Linked DNA regions of Homo sapiens. The protein of the gene in region 3 purifies or fractionates together with the protein of the main gene of each other region. This does not show direct contact. Each region holds a gene or a part of one and is shown on either strand. Other genes may lie near its edges.

What was found. The genes of interacting proteins can lie anywhere in the genome.
Region 1: the proteins of ANGPTL7 (region 3) and EDEM2 purify together in Homo sapiens (affinity purification with mass spectrometry; 2 studies listed by BioGRID and IntAct, with this or other methods). This does not show direct contact.
Region 2: the proteins of ANGPTL7 (region 3) and EDEM3 purify together in Homo sapiens (affinity purification with mass spectrometry; 2 studies listed by BioGRID and IntAct, with this or other methods). This does not show direct contact.

What each region holds. Positions count from the first base shown.
Region 1 is NC_000020.11:35,137,337-35,144,365, forward strand, and holds part of EDEM2 (ER degradation-enhancing alpha-mannosidase-like protein 2 isoform 1 precursor), read right to left. Parts: intron 5,143-7,029; coding exon 5,037-5,142; intron 670-5,036; coding exon 544-669; intron 1-543. Other genes in the region: MMP24-AS1-EDEM2 (ER degradation-enhancing alpha-mannosidase-like protein 2), read right to left, coding at 544-669, 5,037-5,142. UniProt on the Homo sapiens protein: Involved in the endoplasmic reticulum-associated degradation (ERAD) pathway that targets misfolded glycoproteins for degradation in an N-glycan-dependent manner.
Region 2 is NC_000001.11:184,689,737-184,695,887, forward strand, and holds the end of EDEM3 (ER degradation-enhancing alpha-mannosidase-like protein 3 isoform 2 precursor), read right to left. Parts: intron 4,737-6,151; coding exon 4,327-4,736; 3' UTR 501-4,326; downstream 1-500. UniProt on the Homo sapiens protein: Involved in endoplasmic reticulum-associated degradation (ERAD). Accelerates the glycoprotein ERAD by proteasomes, by catalyzing mannose trimming from Man8GlcNAc2 to Man7GlcNAc2 in the N-glycans.
Region 3 is NC_000001.11:11,184,669-11,192,365, reverse strand, and holds the start of ANGPTL7 (angiopoietin-related protein 7 precursor), read right to left. Parts: upstream 3,012-7,697; 5' UTR 2,787-3,011; coding exon 2,411-2,786; intron 97-2,410; coding exon 1-96. UniProt on the Homo sapiens protein: Has a role in the formation and organization of the extracellular matrix.

The sequences.
Region 1 (7,029 bases), on a different chromosome or scaffold from region 3:
TGAACCCAGGAGGCGGTGGTTACAGTGACTTGAGATTGTGCCACTGCACTCCAGCCTGGGCGACAGAACAAGACTCCATCACAAACAAACAAACAACAAACTATGAAGAGAAAGAGTGGCTTGGTCACGATGTTGGCTGGCAGAGCTGAGTCTAGAATCCAGGGCTGCTAATGCTCACACCAACACCCTTCCCTGGGCCCCTGTTACTCCAGCAGTGTGTGGAATAACTGTAGTACCTGGAAGGGGACAAATGGGCTCATTCAAAATAAGGGTAATGGCCTTCCACCCACCAGGCTGGCCACCTTCAACCATCCCCTGCAAACAATAATGAGGTCAACTCATCCATCCGGGTCAGGGCCCCAGCAGGCCCTTAAAATGCCCAGGACACTCCTGATTTCCATGGTGGGTGCCTGGTGGGTAGAAAGACCAAATACACCTGGTGAGAAATACCAGGAATTAATTCAGCACTGCCACTCTCATCTTCAGCAAGGGAAGCAGGACCTACTGGACTTCGTCTCTGCCCCATCTCTGTGTGGGTCTTACCTGGGAGGAGTTTTCGGGCCGCCTCCTCAGCCATTCTCAGGAGAGGCCCGGAACAGGGCCATCCAGCCTCTACTTCCACCCCAGCCTTCTTGGAGAGCAGATGAGCAGACAGGAGTCCTCCTACCACTACAGATGGCACAGAAAGCAAATGGCACAGTCCAAAGGGAAAGACCAAGGGATCAAGGATCTTTCCCCTGTGCGAGTTAAACATAAACACTCTATTGTGGGGCGCATGTTCTCAGGACCTCCTGAAGCTATTTCACGGGTAAAAACAAACAAACAAAAACCTCACTCTGTTGGGGTGGCTCACTGGGAAGGAGCTAGAGCCACCCAGCGAAAAAAGAGTCCCTTAATCCCACATATTTCTATGGTGTTAAGTTTATGGGGTTTTCTTCTCTTGGTTCATCACAGGAACAGTGGCTATTTTTTGTAAGTCCCTATTGTGTACCAAGCACTAAGTACTACTGTCCCCTCTTCGTATGAAGATACTGAGGTTCCATGAGATAAAGTGACTTGCCCCAGGTCACCCATCTAGTAGGTGGTAGGGCTGAGTATCTTTGATTCCAAAGCCCATGCTCATTCCATTTGTCACTCTGTCTGTCTCCCAGTCACCTGTCATACCTGGGGGGAAGGGGTAATGATGGTTATTACCTTTATTTTACTAATTTATCTATTTCAACTTATTATGCAATATGTAGAACTTTTTTTTTTTTTTTTTGAGACGGAGTCTCGCTCTGTCACCTAGGCTGGAGTGCAGTGGCGCGATTTCGGCTCACTGCAAGCTCCGCCTCCCAGGTTCACGCCGTTCTCCTGCCTCAGCCTCCCGAGTAGCTGGGACTACAGGAGCTCACCACCATGCCCGGCTAATTTTTTTGGATTTTTTTTTTGTAGACACGGTGTTTCACTGTGCTAGCCAGGATGGTCTCGATCTCCTGACCTCATGATCCACCTGCCTCAGCCTCCCAAAGTGCTGGATTTACAGGCATGAGCCACCGCACCCGGCCTACTTAGAACTTTTAAAAAGACACAAAGGTTCTTGGAAATACAGCTAAATAGATATCCTGAGTGGCCCTCTCAATGAAAATAACTGGTGACCCTAAGTTTCAAAATTCCCCTCCTCCCTGCAGAGGGGGAATAGGAGACCAAGGTCAGACCTGCCCCAAGTGGAAGTCTGATAAAAGGTCCCTATGCAGGCCAGGCATGGTGGCTCACATCTGTAATCCCAGCACTTTGGGAGCCGAGGTGGAGATCACGAGGTCAGGAGATGGAGACCATCCCGGCTAAAATGGTGAAACCCTGTCTCTACTAAAAATACAAAATATTAGCTGGGCGTGGTGGCAAGCGCCTGCAGTCCCAGCTACTTGGGAAGCTGAGGCAGAAGAATGGCTTAAACCCAGGAGGTGGAGGTTGCAGTGAGCCAAGATTGCACCACTGCACTTCAGCCTGGGTGACAGAGTGAGACTCCGTCTCAAAAAAAAAAAAAAAAAGTCTGGGCACGGTGGCTCATGCCTGTAATCCCAGCACTTTGGGAGGCTGAGGCAGGTGGACTGCCTGAGCTCAGGAGTTCGTGACCAGCCTGGTAAACACGGTGAAACCCTGTCTCTATTAAAAATACAAAAAATTAGCCGGGCATGGCGTTGTGCGCCTGTAGTCCCAGCTACTCGGGAGGCTGAGGCAGGAGAATTGCTTGAACCCAGGAGGCGGAGGTTGCAGTGAGCTGAGATCATGACACTGCACTCCAGCCTGGGCGACAGAGCGAGACTCCATCTCAGAAAAAAAAAAAAAAAGAAAAGAAAGAAAGAAAAGAAATCTACATGTATGTACCTTATGGTAAAACTGCAGAACACCAAAGGGAAAAATGATCTCGAATGCAGCCAGAATCCATGTAATAATAATTATTAATGCTGGGTGATGGGCACGTCTGGTTCATTATGCTATTTTCTCTACTTTTATGTTTGAAGTTTTCCATAACAAAAAGTTTTTAAAAGGAGAAGACAGCCAAAGTGAAAACCAAAACAAGATTCTCTACAAATAAATAATAATTACATTGACAGATTACTTCTTAACAATAATGAAACCAGAAGATAATGGAAAAAGTTTTTAACACAATAAGAGAAAGTAACCATCAACCTAGAACCATACACCCAGCAAAAATATCACTCAAAGGCCAACCAAAGGCAGTTGAATAAAGACATTTTCATATAAACAAAAGCTGGGAATGTTTATGAAGCACACACCTGCATTAAAGGAAATTCTAAAGGAAATACTTTAGAGAAAAGGTCTGAGACACGAAAAGAAAAAATAGTCAAAAAAGTGGTAAATAGGCCAGGCACAGTGGCTAAACCTGTAATTCCAGCACTTTGGGAAGCCAAAGCAGGTGGATCACTCAAGATCATGAGTTTGAGACCAGCCTGGCCAATGTGGTGAAACACCATCTCTACTAAAAATACAAAAATTAGCCTGGTGTGGTGGTGCACAACTGTAATCCCAGCTACTCTGGAGGCTGAGGCAGGAGAATCGTTTAAACCCAGGAGGTGGAGGTGAGCCAAGATCGCGCCACTGCACTCCAGCCTGGGTGGCAGAGTGAGACTCTATTTCAAACCAACAACAACAAAAAAAGTGGTAAATTTATGTGTAAATGCAAAACTTCAACAATATAGAACAAAAATTATAATGTATGGAAGGTTTAAAACAAATAACTAAAATATATAACTGTAGCATATAGGTCAGGATGTTCTCTAAGTCAGGTTTTGCATTATTCAGGAGGAGAACAAAGATTTTCATTAAATTTAGACTTTGATAAGTTATGTTTGTTAAATTTGCTTGGAAAACTATGTAAAAAGCTAGATATTGTGCATAATTTCCATATTAGTAAGAGGAAAATGGAATGGGGGGAAAACAATCTAAAGAAGGCATGAAAAAGGACAGAATAAAGGAACATAAAGAAGATGGCACAGGGCCAGGTGCAGTGGCTCACACCTATAATCCCAGCACTTTGGGAGGCTGATGGGGGGCGGATCACCTGAGGTCAGGAGTTCGAGACTAGCCTGGCCAACATGGTGAAACCCCATCTCTACTAAAAATACAAAAATTAGCAGGGCACGGTGGCAGGCACCTGCAATCCCAGCTACATAGGAGGCTGAGACAGGAGAATCGCCTGAACCCGGGAGGCAGAGGTTGCAGTAAGCCAAGATTGCACCACTACACTCCCGCCTGGGCGACAGAGTGAGACTCCGCCTCAAAAAAAAAAAAAAAAAAAAAAAAAAGAAGACGGCACAGAGAGCACAATACTGTAGAAATGAGTGCAAATATATCAGTAATTACAGTAAATGTAAATGGATTAAATGTGCCAGTTAAAGATTGTCAGAATGGATAAACAAAATATAATACACTATTTGCAAAAGATGTATCTAATCATAAAACTACAGAAAGATGGAAAGGATAGAAAAAGATACATGGGAAAATGTCAACCAAAAGAAAGCTGGTATCACTTATATTCCTATCAGAAATAAAGGTATAAGAATGACCTTCATTTACAGATGACAAACTGGGCTCAGAAGCTGGGAGACATAGCAGCAAGTACAGCCTCAAACTCAGGCCGGATTCCTAAACCAGGATTTTAGACCATGTTGTCCCTCTGCTCTCTTCTCTTTTTTAATCTTTTATGGATCATATGTCTGGAATATAAGTTTCATTGCAGAAAACATACAAAATAATGGGGAAAAATAGAACTCTGCCATCCAGAGGTGACAGCTGTTAAGTGGTCTAGAGGTTCGATGCAAATAAGGGCTGTGCTGGCTTCACAAGAATCACTGGAAGTCTGCTAAAAATACTGATTCTAGGACCCAACACAGAGATTCCAATTCATTAGGTTTAGGGTGGAGTCTCAACATCTGAATTTTTTAACCACTTGGGAGTGGTTCCTATGGGCTGCCAAGTTTGGAAGATTAATGCTGTAGATTTGCACTGTCCAATACAATAATCACTAACTACATGTGACTACTTAAATTTAATATCATTAAAATTAAATGAAATTAAAAATTCAATTCCATAGTTGTAGTAGATACATTTCAAATGCTCAATAGCTCATGTGGTTCGTGGCTACCATACTGGACAAAACACAGCTATAAGACATTTCCATCACTGCAGAAAATTGGATTGGACAGACAATAAGTTCCAAGAAGGCAAGGATCATATCTTTCTTGTTCATAGCTGTATGCCTAGTATCAAATACATATTAAAGAGGTGAGTAATCTGGTGTATTTCTTTCCAGTCTCTTAGTCTCCTGCTCACTTTCATATCTGAAACTGATGGGGAAATCCTGAGACTTCCCCACCTCACCCTCCAGGAGGGAAGAAGAGCTCTGTCGGTCAGAGGTTTTGGCCAAGGGTCCTGGCATGGTCAGTCCTTAAAATCCTATTTACCACTTCTTGGTTTACAGAGGCAACTTCACACTCTTTTTTCTTTTAAAGGTCCTAGAGAGCAGCCCTTACCTCGAATGTTTGTTTCAAACACAGAGGCGTTCACATCAATATCAAAGTCCACGCTGTCCTGGAGCACTTCAACCACTCTTTGGAATTCTGAGACATTCCCCAAAATCTGGAAATAAAAAAGAGACCTGACAATGAGGCTCTTACATGCATGGAGGCAGATTCAGAGTCTGGGATCCTATGTTGATGTGGCCCTCACTAATTCCACTTAAGACCTCCAGTTTCTGTCCTAGGATTGGTGACAGCAGAAGAAAACACTGAGAGCTAGAAATCATCTAGAGACTTCATACCAAGAGACTGGTTAAGTAAATTCCTAGGTCCCAATTAAGAGTCACGATGTTGTCATTTAAATGGACACAATATAAAGAACGCAAACTACGCATAGAAGTCTTAGGTTTTTTGTTTCGTTTTTTTGAGACAGAGTCTCGCTCTGCTGCCCAGGGTAGAGTGCAGTGGCGTGATCTTGGCTCACTTCAAACTCCGCCTCCTGGGTTCAAGCGATTCTCCTGCCTCAGCCCCGAGTAGCTGGGATTATGCACCACCATGCCCGGCTAATTTTTGTATTTTTAGTAGAGACGGGGTTTCACCATGTTGATCAGGCTGGTCTCAAACTCCTGACCTCATGATCCACCCGCCTTGGCCTCCCAAAGTGCTGGGATTACAGGTGTGAGCGACCGCACCTGGCCAAAAGTCTTAGTTTGACATTTGCAGTAGATACCAGTTGTCACCTTCAACCTTGTGGAAAACAGAACAGGTTGGTTGGCCCAAAACAAATTCATTCCTACCCTCTTTACCTCATGGCCTCCCACCAGAGGTTGGAAATCCAGAAGCTTTCTCGGCCTCCTTTGCTGCTGCAGTTGATTGTGTTACCCAGTCAATTCTGACCCTTGAGAGGTCTACTGGGGGCACTTCTGGGAAGGCTTCTGTTTTCTTAATACCAAGGGACAAACACAGCTAACATGGCTTTTAGTCTCTCTCTTTCTGCCTTGAACTCAGACTCGATTTCTGAAGTGATGGCAGCTATGTGAGACCATGACGTACTAAGCATTAGAATAAAAGCCAAAACACTAACGATACTAGAATGCAAAGCTACAAAGAGGCTGGTCTCTAATGACACAGTTGCGTAGCTGACCCAATGCTAGAAATTACCTCTAGACTTTCTTTTACTTGAGAAAATAAACCCTCTTTATTTAAACCGTTAGCCAAATGCAATCTCAATCTCTCTTCTTTTGATAGTAACATCTCAATTTACCCTCGAGGAATCACTCTTCCCCGGCAGTCACTCCTGTGGTTTGGGAGAGGCTGATCCCATCCCTCTAGCTGTGGAGTGGGTACTTGACCTGAACCAGTCCAAGTCTTTTTTTTGAGACAGGGTCTTGCTCTGTTACACAGGTTGGAGTGCAGTGGTGTGATCATAGCTCATCACAGCCTCGAACTCTGGGACTTGAGCAATGTTGGCCTCCCAAAGTGCTGGGATTACAGGCATGAGCCACCACACCTGGCCCTTTTTACCTTTCTAAGCATCAGGTTTCTTTTATATCTTTTTTTTGTTTGTGTGAGACAGGGTTTTACTCTGTTACCCAGACCAGAGTGCAGTGGTGCGATCTCGGCTCACTGCAACCTCTGCCTCCCTGACTCAAACAATCCTCCTACCTCACCCTCCTCCCTAACAAATGGAGCCACAGACATGTGCCATCATGCCTAATTTTTTATATTTTTGGTAGAGACGGGGTTTCACCATATTGCCCAGGCTGGTCTTGAACTCCTGTGCTCAAGCAGTCCTGCCGCCTTGGCCTCCCAAAGTGCTGGGATTACAGGCGTGAGCCACTGTGCCCATCCCTAAGCATCAGGTTTCTTAACGATAAGAAGGAGTAAAGGTACTAACCTCAAGAAGTTGTTAGAAGAATTAATACATGTCTGTACTAAGCCCTACAGAAACATACTAACTAGTCACTGATATTATTTCTTTATAATTTTTTTTGAGATGAAGTTTCAC
Region 2 (6,151 bases), about 170 Mb from region 3:
TTCTTGAGGAGGAGATGCGATTATAGGTGTGCACCACTATGCCCCACCTCGTGTGTATTTTTCATGTTCTCTTCTTTCGCTGACCTAAACTACTTATTTTTAAAAGCATAATGCTTATTTTGGAAACTTATGAAAATACTGACATATACAAATAAGGAAATAGCAATTGCCTACAATCCAAGATAACCACTGTTAGTATTTTGGCTATTTAACTCACTCCATGATTTCCACCACTCTCTATCCCCTCACCATAATTTTTTCTTCATAAACTCATTGTCCTTTTTACTTACTACTTTATTTTCTATCTTCTTTACCACATTTTGTCCATCTGTCCACTACAACCCCAGGTCCTATAATAGTGCCTGGCATACAGAAGGCATGCACGCCCTTAATCTTTGTTGAATAAATGAGTCAATGTCATTATATATATGTGTGTGTATATATATATAATGTGTATGTATATATGTGTATGGAGAGAGTGAGCAAGCGCTGGATCATAATTTATACACAATTCTAGAGTTTTATTCACTTAGCATTACCTTTGTGCATGCTACTGACTTGTTGAAAAACTTTCAGTGATTTCTTAGAACAAAATCCTTACTTTAGCCCACAAGCTTGGGTTTCTACAGCCTAAAATGTCCCCAGAATTCAATCCCCGGAGGATAAAATGAGTTTAAAAAAAAAAGGAAAACAGAGTGATAAACATCAAGACATAAAAGTATGAGGATATGCACAGTGATTCTAAAAATTCAAATTAAAACTAAACTGGAATATTTACATATTTTATTAAATCTTTACAATCAGTAATTATAATCAAATACATAATTATATACAGGATTATATACATTTTGCCCAGACTTTTACATCACAGTACATAGTTTCCCTTAGAAATATTGTATACATTTATCACCAAACAATAAAATCCAACAACAGTAGTGTTACAGCACCTGTTAGTACAGACATCTTTTTCATAAATTACATCATAAGAAAATATACGGCTGTAAATTGGGCTTTTAAAAATGTCTTTTATAAAATCTGAACATACAATATTTCATTCACAGAATGTTTTTTTTTTCTATGTTCTGACTGAAGCCTTGTGCATAAAACGACCGGCTGGAATATTTACTAAATTCTACCCCCCTCTAAAATTATAAGCAGTATTTGAATTACTTATGCTGAGCTTTCTTCATGATGAATTTGGCATGGGGTTTGGTGAGAGAACAAATGTTGGCTTTACTATAAAAAAGGTTGTGTGATGGTAATTTAAATTTTAAAAGCTTCTTGAGAGAGTAATTACATTAGTGAAGTTAAAATCAGAAAGTGTACAATTTTTCTTTTTACTAATACTGTAAAGAAAAAGGGAGACGTATAATGCCAAGAGTTAATTTGTTCTGAAACAATTATACTCTTTTTGGAAGCCTATTGCAATTTAAGAAGAAAAAAGAAAACTTGCCTAACAAAATATCCCATACCAAACATATCTAGTAAATTACAATTCTTTCACACTTAAAACTTTATGGGAAAAGTATTGCAAATAAGGGCATATCATTTCAATGAACTTTTATATGCAGAAAAAAACTAGCTATTTTATTTTTAGTAGGTAAACAGGTTAAGTTTTAAAACTTGAAAATACCTGAATTAAATACTTGCTCTAATATCTCTTAAAGGATTTCAGCTAAAATCCTTGATTCCAGATTTGTAAACATTATATAAATCTTTCTTAAACAATTTTATGGCTGTGGTGATCACTTCAGCTATATTTCTAAGCAGTCAACATTTAACTGAGGTAGACCAGATGTTTCTAAATTCGGGGTTTCATAGAATCCCCTGAATCTTTAGCAAGTTACTAAAATGTCTATAAAAGTTAACTAAAAAACAAAACACTAAAAAAAAAAAAAACAACTAATGCCTTTGGAATTTTTAATGAACTCAAAAACTACTTTGTGGCAGTATGTCAAGTAAGTAAATGAATGTAGAGTTGTAATTACAACGTTGGAGTTTTTTAGACGAACATTATCTCCTCTTTTCTTAACTAGGGAAATATTGAGTATAATTCCTTCTGGGTATTAAGAAAAATTGGTTAAATTTTTTCCTTTTCTTTTTTTAAGGATTTACTTTTCTTAACAAGTGAACAATTTGCTTCTAAGCGTCAATGAAAGGCAACACCTCCCTCTAATGGCCAAAGGAAGAGAGTGGCAGTAAGCTGGCTTTTCCAATGTGTCACACAATCCTTCATGCCATTAAGTTCTCCTTGTTGGAAAAGAAATTAGGTTGTTTTGATAACTTAGAAAAGTTAGTTTTAGACAACAGTGACTTTCAGCTACAAATACAAAATCAAATCCATGTATATAAGGCTTCTGTAATCGATGTCTTAGAGGAACATCTGCTCATTTTCTCCAAGCCCCAGTCCTATAAATCAAGGCAAGTCAAGTAATTAAGCTTCAACTATTTTGGCAGCTTTGCAATTAAAATGAACAAAGCACTATATCTATCCTTCCATATACTGTATATATTATAGTTCTATCTTGTTACACCAAATCTCACATGCAGAGAGACTAAAAATATCCATTTTGGTTTCAGGTATAATTAAAAGCCAATAAGGGTCTTGCATACTATTCTTTTTCCCCTCCCCAAAGTGAATTCTCCATCAGATTTACTACTCCCTGACTCAATTATATTTACCTGGAATATCTGAATGCAGGTATTTATCCTCTCAGAAAAGAATATGTTTACCTGGGATCTAAACATACTGTACACGAATATACATAACTGCAATACAGCACTGCTGTTTTTAACAGCTCCACTTACACCTCATCAGTACCTCACAACCGTGTTTTAGGAAAAAGTTTTGTGTAATGTTATGGTAAAGAGAAGAAAATTATGTCTCTTAAATATTCCTTTAGAACAAATTCAGGCAAGTTTAAAAAATAAATAAAATGAATAAAGCCATGATTTCAACAACAGGGCTGTCTACAAACATCAACAACAAAATTTAAAAATTTTTAAGACTTAAATGTGGCCAGCACCAGACTACTACAACAACAACAAACCAAAAAAAAAAAGGGGGGGGGTGGAAGTCTCATTAAGCTATATAGCTATATGTAGTTGTATTGTACTTTTTTTTTTAAACACAGGTCACCATACACTAATTTTCAAGTCCGTATCAGAAGGAATATCTGTTAAAAACAAAAACAAAAACCATGATTCAACAGAAAATGTGACAGATTCCTTAGGTGCAACTTTAGAAACCTAAGTTTCAAAGGAGAAAAACAGTAGTTACTCCAGGAATTTTAACTCACTAACCACAGTTCTATCATGGCTCTGTAAGACAGAAAAATGGAACAAAATGTATATAGCTGTTGGCGATACGAGCCTTGTGGCTCAAATTGCATACCAAACATGGGATGGAGTAAGGCTGATGGCTAGAGGTAATCACCTCTAAGAGAAATGAACTGGAAATGATTTATAATCTACCCTACAAGGATATAATGCTAGGTTCCATTTCAGAGTAGTCACAGCTTTCCCTATGGAAGGCCCAATGGGAGGTTCATATTGCAACATTACAGTTTCTCCCTTACTCCATTTTTCAGAAGTATTAAGTAAGCAATCTCCACAATGTATTATATGACCTTTTTACCTGGTCCCACTGATTAGTCTTTATGCAGAGAACTCACTGAGAAAGTACACTGGCTTCACCTTTGGTTTAAATAAAAAAGACATTGTTAAGAAGGAAAAAAAATCAAGTCATCTTGATCATTTGTCACTAAATGAAACAAGAGAAAGCAATGAGCAAAGACTGTTTTCACCATAAATGCATTTGCTTCATAACCACTTAGGTCACTTAGAGTGTTTTGTGAAGGCAGCATAATCAGAATGCCACAATACTCGGATGCATCTTCCCAAAAGAGCCTCTAACCCCCAAAACCAAGAAAGGCGAGCTTCCTTTAATTAGAAGGCTATCCAAACTCCTATTCCCCACTCCACTACTAAATGAATTTTGTTTCTTGTCTATCCAGAGACAACAGAAATCTGGTTCGCAGGAATGCTCAGTAATCTTTCCCTGGCCTGAGGTGTTGCAGGGTGGTGCAGTGCTGCATTTGAAGGGGGAACTGTGGATTTCCATTTTTGATGGGACAGTTTTAAACAAGGTCAATTCTAACACAGCATGCTCCAGATTCCTACGATAACTACGCCAGTCAGAACGTGGTTGTTCATCACCATACTTAAAGCCTCCCATTAGAAAGCCTGCTTAGTATTAGGATGTCTATTAACCACACACAGTTTACCTTTTCTTTTTAAATACCTACCAACAGATTGTTTAGCAAGTCATAGCTCATCCTTCTCCATCATTTCAAATGCTTCTATATCTTCATTCCAGTCTGCTAATATGGAGTCTATAGGCTGGACCTTTTTACCCCAGCTAACATTAGGATTGGAATCTTCCTCAGTTTCTGATTGTTCTTGAAGCTGGTTATCTAAATCTGTACATTCACCATTAAGATTTGTAGTCTCATGGTTTTCTGTGGGATTAGAAGTCTGTTCAGAAGGGGAAATGCTTGCAGCATTGTCCATATCTGCTAGAGATAATGATTCTGGGTGAGAATTTAGAGAATTTTCCTCAGAAGACTCTTGATCAACCAAATCAACCTCCTGAGAACTTGATGAAATCTGTTCACCACTCTGATTCTGAGAATCATTTTCAGAGGATGGTTGTTCTTCATTTTCCATTTCAGGATCTGTATGAGAAAGAAACAAACCTCATGCTACTTCTCTAAAAAAATGTACTATTACACTTTCCAAAGCATATTGGTTTTTGCAACAAGATGAAATAAAACGTGAAAGAGACTCATGTTAATGCAGAAAGGTGAGCATCAGCACTGAAATGAAGACTGTCTTTATGCAGTCACATTTTCCTATAGATTCACTGTGCAAAATGTGTCAGTGTTAGAAAATAAACGTTCTTCCAAATTGGAAGGAATGACAATAACTAAGACTGACATCAGTGGACATTAGTAAGCCAAGAAGTACGCTAACCAATAATAATATTAAAATATATAGAGATTTGCAATGTATGGCTAAAATGTATTAGATACCTAAAGCTTATGCATAAGAACATATTAAACAGAATCAATTTTAAACAGCATATATCATTGCTATATTTTCAAATAATATTCCTTTGAAAAGTGAAATTCCTACTCAGTAAGTCATAAAGAAGCAGATAACATAGATTTTTTTGAATGACTAAGGGTATTAATGTGACTGATCAGAAATACTTTCACAAGACAAGAACTGAGATTATTCATAAAATTCTATTATTTTAGGCCTATGAATTATAAGATATAGTCATTTTAAAATCCACTGGAAGGCTGAAGAGTGAGTTAAACCTCTTATAATGAATATACAGTGAAACCAGTAGAGGCATTTTATTTAGGGTTCCTACAAGAAAGTGCTTAAATAGCATCGACGCCTACATGCTACATCCTGTTCAGTCTCTGCCTCTGTGATGCAGTTGGCCAGCAAATATCCTCCAAGTCATCATTTGCATAGTGCTAGGGATAAAATGAGGAGCAATACCAAATGCTATACCTGCCCTTATGGGTCTTATAGTCCAACGGGAGAAAAAGATATTATACAAATAATCACGGAAAATAAATAGAAAACTCAACTGTGACACGTTATGAAAGAGAGATAAGGATTTTGGATGCTCAAGTCCCTTATGTAAAATGACACAGTATTTGCATATAACTGACACACATCCTCCCATGTACTTTAAATCATCTCTTGATTACTTTATAATACCTAATACAACGTAAATGTTATGCAAATCATTGGTATACTGTATTGTTTGGAGAATAATGACAAGAAAAAAAATCTCTGTATGTTCAATACAGATGCTTTTTTCTTCTTGAATATTTCCTATCCACAGTTGGTTGAATCCATGGGTGCAGAACCCACAGATACAGAGGGAGAACTGTAAGGAGATTTGAGAAGTTTCTTCAAAAAGTTCCTTCAGAAAGTGACACTTGAGCTGGGGTTTAAAGTATAAGATAATGTCAAAGAAGGGAGGGAAGAGGATTTATTTAAAAACCAGAAAAAACAAAGGAAATGTAGACATGCAGGAAGGTGTGGTGGGTATTGCTGGGGCACAGAA
Region 3 (7,697 bases):
GTTCAGGGCTGCCCAGGAAGTCATCAGGAGGAAGCTTATACACTCCAGAGATGCGGTAGTTCTTCTGGTAGAGGGAAGAGCAGTCGTAGATGGCATCTACAAGAGAACAAACCACAGGGTGAGCATTTAGACCCAGTGGCTCCATCTGAGTTGAGTGTTTAGAGACTGAGCCTTTATTTCTACCCTGGGATTCTCAGTGGTGTTAATTACCCATCAGTGTCTGCATTTGGGAGAGGTGGATATGGGGAGATCCAGAGGGGGTGTATTTTGGCTTTACTAGCGGTGGAGCAGAGGGGTAGGGAAGCCCTTCACCTGGATAGCATTAGTGGGACGTTCCAACAGGTGGTTTCAGGTTAACTCTGAAATAAATTATTCTGCTATAGCTGGGCCATGAATTCTAGAAATGTTACAGTGTATGAGGGCCACGTAACAGATACTCCTGTCAGATAGATTCAGACTTCTTAGACAGCCGCCACTATAACAAATCAGTCGTGAATATCTCATAGAGTCTGGTTTTGTTGATGTTTCCTGGTTGGTTGTTTTTGTTGTTGTTCAGAGATGGTGGCTACTGCCACCTGAGACCATAATTAAGGGAGATAGATTTTATTATCACATATTTTCCCCTTCCATCCAGCTAGCACCTCAAAACACTCAGAAGAACCTTTGAGGCCTTCCTCCCAGAAGTTTTGTTAAAACAATGAAATGAGAGCATCAGACTGGCCAGTTTTTTTACTCTAGGGCCATGGAGCTGCTACTTTATGCAGGATTTAAGCTCTGTATTCTAAATATCAAAGAGCATAGTGGAAGAGACAGCCTTTTCTGATAGGATTCAGAGACTGCGGCCCTTACTATCCAAGAGAAGCTTCCTGCCTGCTATGTCTCGGGGTGCTTTTCTTGGTGACCACTGCACTGGGACCTTAGAGAGGAGCACCAAGATGGCAGATGGGAGTTGTCTGAGGCACATAGGTTCTCTTGCAGAGCACCTTGGGAAAGGGAGGTAGAGTACGTGTGCCTTCGCCATCACTATTCTTCATTTCGTCTTAGTGGTGAAAGCACCAACTTACTGCTTCCTCTAAGGGACTACCTACTTATAGAATATAAGGGTAACTGAGCACTTGGTCATAGAGAAGAAAAATAAGGAATGATGTCCTGGGCAAGAAGAGCAAGAGACCTGGTGGGAGAGCTGCACTTGACCCCAAGAACCTCCTTGCAGGATGGTGAGAAAGCCTCCTGTTTGGATGAGCAGGAAGTGGCACGGTCAGATTCCTCTGTCTGGCCTGGTCTTCCGCATGTCTGGTTTCATCTCACAGACCAAATCAGGACTCACTTGTCTGGAAAATGGCCTGAGAATACCTTTCTAATCCCAAACTGAGGGCCCGGAAGTCCATGCTTAGAAAGTGATTGATACATGTTGGTTCAGGTAACAGAATTTTCAAGCTTGGTTTCATGTTAAAACTTTTTCTTAATTTGAGCTGAGGTTAACCATTGACTTAGTCAGTAGAAGCTGATCATGTCTTTGTTCTTCATGTAGTTTATAATGGGACCAATGGTTTTTATATCAGCAAGAAATGACATGTCTATAGGATATGCTCCTTACAACTAATATTTTCCTGATAATTTCAGAAAACCAAATTTTTATCTCTAAACCGTAAATTCATGTTGGCCCACCTGAGCTGAGCTAACCAGAAATAAAAGTTATTTTGCAAAAGAAAGATTAAATTTATCTTATTTTTGGCCTATTAAGTCTATATTTCAGCATTGCATTTAAAAAATCCTGTATTCGGAGAAATTCATTTAAGACCATGGAAAAAAATAGACGTATCACAATTGAGGAACCTTAAGGAGCCGCATCCTTCCTGAACACAAAGGGACTCTTCACATGGTTATGTGTCTCTACACTTAACTCTGAGCCAATGAGAAGAGTTACGTTTACAGAGAGAGGACACAAAATTCCATTAATGCTCATTCCTGGTAAATCTTAGGAACACCAGAGAACTGTTTCTGGCAAAACTTTGCTTCCAGAGGAACAGCTGTTACAGTTTGGTGCTTCCTTGGAATTTCTTGAGATATAGCCTGTCAGCTCTTGGTGAGGAAGTAGCAGAGCTACACCAATCAGGAAGACTTGAACCCTGCTTCTAAGACTTGCTGGGTGACTTTGGGCAAACCATGTAGTATCTCAGCACTCCAAGATGGTAGGCTGAAACACTGTGTGGATAAAAGAGACCCGTGAAGGTGTTAGGTAAACTTACATAGCATTAGAAGTCAAAGGAAATACTGCATAAGCCTTTACTAAAGGGAAAGTGTACCCACAAAAGAGGCCCCAGTAGTGGTTCTGATGACCAGGATATGTAGAAGCAGTGCTGTAGATGGGGAGGCACTCCACGCTCCCTCAGGGGACTGGTCTCCTTACCTGCGGAGGTCTGAGTGACCGTCTGTGCTGCCTGCAGCTGCATGATGTCAATTTGGTTGTTCATCTCGGAGTACTTGCTCTCAGCATCTGTGAGCCGCGACTCCATGCGCTTGCTGTTGCTCTCCAGCTCCATCACCTGCATGACCACGCTGACCCAGTCCCTCTCCTGCTTCTTGTTCAGTTCACTCAGCAGGCTGCTAAGGTTGGCAACTTGGGCCTTGAGCTCCTTCACCTCCTCACAGCAGTTGGCCGCTTTGAGCTGTGGCTGTGCTGGTGTCTTGTGCTTAGAGAGCTTCTGCAGCCACGCTGGGTGGCTGACAAAGGCCACGATGAAAATGCAGAGCCAGGTCACAGCTGAGAGAGGCTTTTTCAGCATCTTTTGTGGGTTTGGGTGAGGAAGGCTCTTCCTTCAGGGGAGTCTGGAGATGCCCAGCTGAGGTCTGCAAAGCTGCAGCAGGCTGACTGAACCTTACGCTTTCACTCTGAGGGCCTCGCCACTTTGTTGTTTTCTCTCTTTCCTTGCTCTTTGCTAGCCTTTCTCAAAGCTTGAGTCTCTGACAGGGGAGCTGAATGGGTAGCCTATAGCTTTCCTTCCAAGCCCGAATGCTCCACAAGTCAGCATCTTAAATATTGTTTGCTGCCTGTACCTCCACCCCTACCATGGCTGCACCAGGCTTTAGCCCCTCCCAGCTCATCTGGGAGGGTCAGGTGCCTGTTGGGTGAAGTCAGCGGCAACTTAGGCCAGAGGAGGGGAGGAGGGAGATGGGGCGAGTCTTTCTTTCCTTGCCTGTACAGTCTCTGGGCTAAGACAAGAGGACTGTGAATTTGTGTGTTTCCAGTTTCGCCTATTAGATTATGCCCCTGCCAGCCACTGGCTCAACTCTATCAGCAAGCAGGACAGGGTCAGAAGAATTTCCAAATTCCGTTCAAAAGGTTATATAACCATGGGGTGAGCGTAAGGTAGGCGAAAGAGACGCTACTCACCCAGGGAGGCCTGTTAATGTAATCCATGCTGTTTATATGAGGATCTGGTATATTTTGACATCCTGCTGAATATGCTTTTATCTAGGCTGATTATTCCCATCTCTGATCATTATTTAGTATTTTATAAAATCCTTACTCAACCTGGATCTAACACTATCTCACATTTGAAATCTTCCAACTTAGAAAAGTTCTAGAAATAGAAGAATAGAGTAAATCTCTTAGGAAGCCAAAAAAAGACTTTGTAGCCACAGGGTTTGGACAGTTGTCTTTTTACATGCTTTCTCCTTCAACAAAGAGAGGGCCAGTATTAGCATATAACACTTGATATTTTGCAAGGAGGTGTCAGAAGATTACAACAGAGATGAAAACTCAGCAGTGCCAAGCATGTCTGGGATTGGTCACCCATGCTTCTGTCAGTTTCTAGGCAGGACAGAGAACAGGCCCATCCTTAGCCCGTGGTTCAAAACTTGGAAAATATATTAAAATATAGAGAAAAGAATCCCTGTCACCTAATAAATCCATATCTAGAGTCTCATTTCCCTCTTTCTTTGCTGGTATGGTTTGCAATTTGAAATTATTCCTCCTCTATTTGTATATGACTTTGTATCTAAAAAACATGAATATTGTAATTTTTCATGTACTATATATGAAGGACAATGCTCTTTTGAAAAGAAATGTGAAAAACATGGAGTTTCAGCAAACATCCTTAAAATAAGCTTTTCACTAAGAATCTATACAAAGGTTCCTCTGTCCTTAAAACAGTAACTCTGTCTTTGGAACATACGATTGCTGTTTCCATGTTATGGAGCCACTCAGGCAGTTACTTGTACTGTTGTAGTCAGCGTGGGTCCTTCCCACATAAGCCTGATGCCTGACAGCTCTCCTCCCATGCCATAATCCCCCAGAGCTCTTTTCCAGTCAGGGCTTCTAGCTCCTCAGAAAGTAATTTCTGTTCAGGCAGCTGGAGTTACTGAACAATTTTTTTTTTTCTCAGAATCAAAAAGCAGTGGAGGATCAGGTGGATCAGAGTTTGTTTTCTCACATACCCAGCCTCCTTTGCCTGCTAAAGGGTGAGGATGTTACTGATACCCTTATAGCAACTTGGCATTCTAATCAAAAGATTCTGTTGAGAATTGGCACTGTCTGCCAGTCTGCTCTCTTTTTGCAAATGTCTAGCCCAGCTGGGCACCACAGCCTTAGCTCCATAGCATTCATTTTAGTAACGAGACTCTGGCCCCAAATATTGGCATCCTACAAGGTCTGCTAAAAATAGGGATTTTCAAGTGGATCTCCTGGCCATCAAATGACACTGAGCTTAAACCACATGCCACAGAAGTGCTATGTACCATACAGTCATGTATAGCAGGGGTCCCTAATCCCCAGGCTGCAGACCTGTACTTGTCCATGGCCTGTTAGGAATAGGGCCATACAGCAGGAGGTGAGTGGCAGGTGAGTGAGCATTACCGCCTGAGCTCTGCCTCCTGTCAGATCGGTGGCAGCATTAGATCCTCACAGGAGTGTGAACCCTGTTGTGAACTGCACATGTGAGGGATCTAGGTTGCGTGCTCCTTGTGAGAATCTAAGTACTGCCTGAAGATCTGAGGTGGAACAGTTTTACCTCAAAACCATCCCCCATCTCCCCACCCCCACCCTGGTCCATAGAAAAATTGTCTTCCACGAAACCAGTCCCTAGTGCCAAAAAGATTGGGGACCACTGATGTATAGCATCCCACGTGACCCTGCTGCCTTGGAACTCTCATGTAACAGTGCAGCAGAGAAAGCACAAAAGAACAGTGGAACTTTGTGGAGTTCTAGCCAGCTTTTGTTTATTCTTCCCAGTAGCTCACCCAAACAGGAAAGTGTTATGAATTGATTCTTATATGTGGGCAGAAAATAAATTAATCATTCATATTTGTACCCCATGTAACAGTCCCTTTTAGGAAAGGTAGGAGGAGGTTCGTAAGTTTGTATTGGAAGCATCTAGCCTTTAGCATGAGTGTCTGGTCTTTGACATTTATTTTCTGGAAACTTATTTCTAACATAAGGCAATACTTGAAGACAGAAGACAGAAGCTCTTGAATTGCATAAGCTACCCAAATGTCAATACTCACCCCCCCTCCAGTTTTGAGGAAAAATAGCTAATTAAGGATATTTCTCATGCCAGAAGATTATCTATTTTCTAAAACATCCACAACCTTATGATGTCCTAGATTCTGAATATCTAAATGAAGGAAAAAGAAGTCCTTGTTTTGAGCACAGCTAAGCCAGTAGAGAAAACCATGAAGGATGTGGAGGACTAAAATGGTATTGCCTTCTCTGAAAGAGGCTTTTAAATCCTTCTTCTGCCTTTCAGTGAGCAGAGTGACCTTAAAAATGGGAATTAACTGACAAAATCTGGAAAACCTAGGTTGGATACTGTTTAGATTTTCCTTTTCTCCATTTTGCTGGTGTTGAAAGAGGGCTAGCTTGGTGCTCCTGGAAAAGGTGTTTATGAAAATTAAGCTTTTGTTCTTAATGAAAAAAGTCAGTGAGGTTGTACTCAACCTGGAGGTTCTCAAAAGACTTCACAGTGTTTGGGCCGCACTGCCTTGGGCTGGCACCAAGGTAGTCTGAGGGTCACAGGGCAGGGGAGCACCTAGGGGTGGTCTCTCCTTCTATCCAGAGAGGAGCATCAGATCCCATTTGCTTGAAAATGCCCCGTTGGAGAGACTGCTGCCCACTCTCAGCTTGTGGAATGAATACATCTCAGAAGAAGCTGCCTTGCTGTTAGTTTTAATTGTGTATCTCAAAGGAATATTTCACTTCTTCTGAAGTCTTTGAAAAAACCACAGCCTGCCATACTCTATACAGCCGTTGAATATCTGCCTTTTTTTTTTTTTTTTTTTTTTTGAGACGGAGTCTTGCTCTGTCGTCCAGGCTGGAGTGCAGTGGCACGATCTTGGCTCACTGGAAGCTCTGCCTCCCGGGTTCACGCCAATTCTCCTGCCTCAGCCTCCCAAGTAGCTGGGACTACAGGCACCTGCCACCATGCCCAGCTAATTTTTTGTATTTTTTAGTACAGGCAGGGTTTCACCATGTTAGCCAGGATGGTCTCGATCTCCTGATCTGTTGATCCACCCGCCTCGGCCTCCCAAAGTGCTGGGATTACAGGTGTGAGTCATCATGCCCGGCCACATATCTGCCTTTCTAGCACTCCATCCCATTCCTGTCTCAACTGAAAGTCCAAGTCCATCACAGAAGATATTTCCATCTTTTCCCTGAGCTTTCTAATTTGCCACTTCTATCAAAGAATGTGTCCTGAACCTATTAGAAGTCTTTTCTCTCAGGCCTTCTCTTAGAGTCCTGTTTTGTTTTGTTCTGTTTTGTTTTGTGACAGGGTTTCACTCTGTTCAGGCTAGAGTGCAATGGGGCAACCATGGCTCATTGCAGCCTCAACCTCCCAGTCTCAAGTGATCCATCCACCTCAGCCTCCCGAGTAGCTAGGACTGCAGGTATGCACCACCACACCCAACTATCTTTTTTTCTTTCTTTCTTTCTTTCTTTTCTTTTTTTTTTTTTGTAGTGATGGGGGTCTCACTGTGTTGCCAGGGCTGGTCTCGAACTCCTGGGCTCAAGTGATCCTCCAGCCTCAGCCTCTCAAAGTGCTAGGATTACAGGCATGAGCCACCACACCTGGCCAGAGTCAGTTTTAAATTATGGAATATAGTAAAAAAAAAAAAAAAGTCTCTCTGATTTCTGTCAGGACTTTATAGCTCTGTTAGCCTCCACTCAAGTTGCACAATCCAGCGATTATTCTGGCCCAGTGTCTGGCAGTCTAGTTAGACAGCTGAACTCTTGGACAGTGTGACATGCTAGGATGGGAGACACAGAGGACAAGGAGGGCCTTCTAGAGAAGTGATACCTAGGTTTTAAAGAAAAAGGAGGAAATAGCCAGGAATGGGAGAGGATGTTGTAAGCAAAGGTGCAGCTATGTGAAAGACTTGGACTAGTGGGAGAATGTAAGTAGTCGAGTGTGGCCTAAGAGTCAAAGGGAAGAAGAATGGCAGCAGAAGCTAAAGCTGGAGAGGTGGAGGGGGGCCGTGCCCGGGGAGCCCAGGTGAGGAGCGGGACTGATCCTCTGTAGACATGGGAAGGAATCCTAGAGGTTTTTCCCTCTTGTTCCATTGTTTTCCTGAGTTCCACCAGGAAAGTGGCCTTGGTAATTGCCAAACAATTTTTTTTTATTTTTTATTTTTTTTAGAGACATAGTCTCATTCTGTTACCCACCCTGGAGTGCTGTAGTGCAATCATATAGCTTACTGAA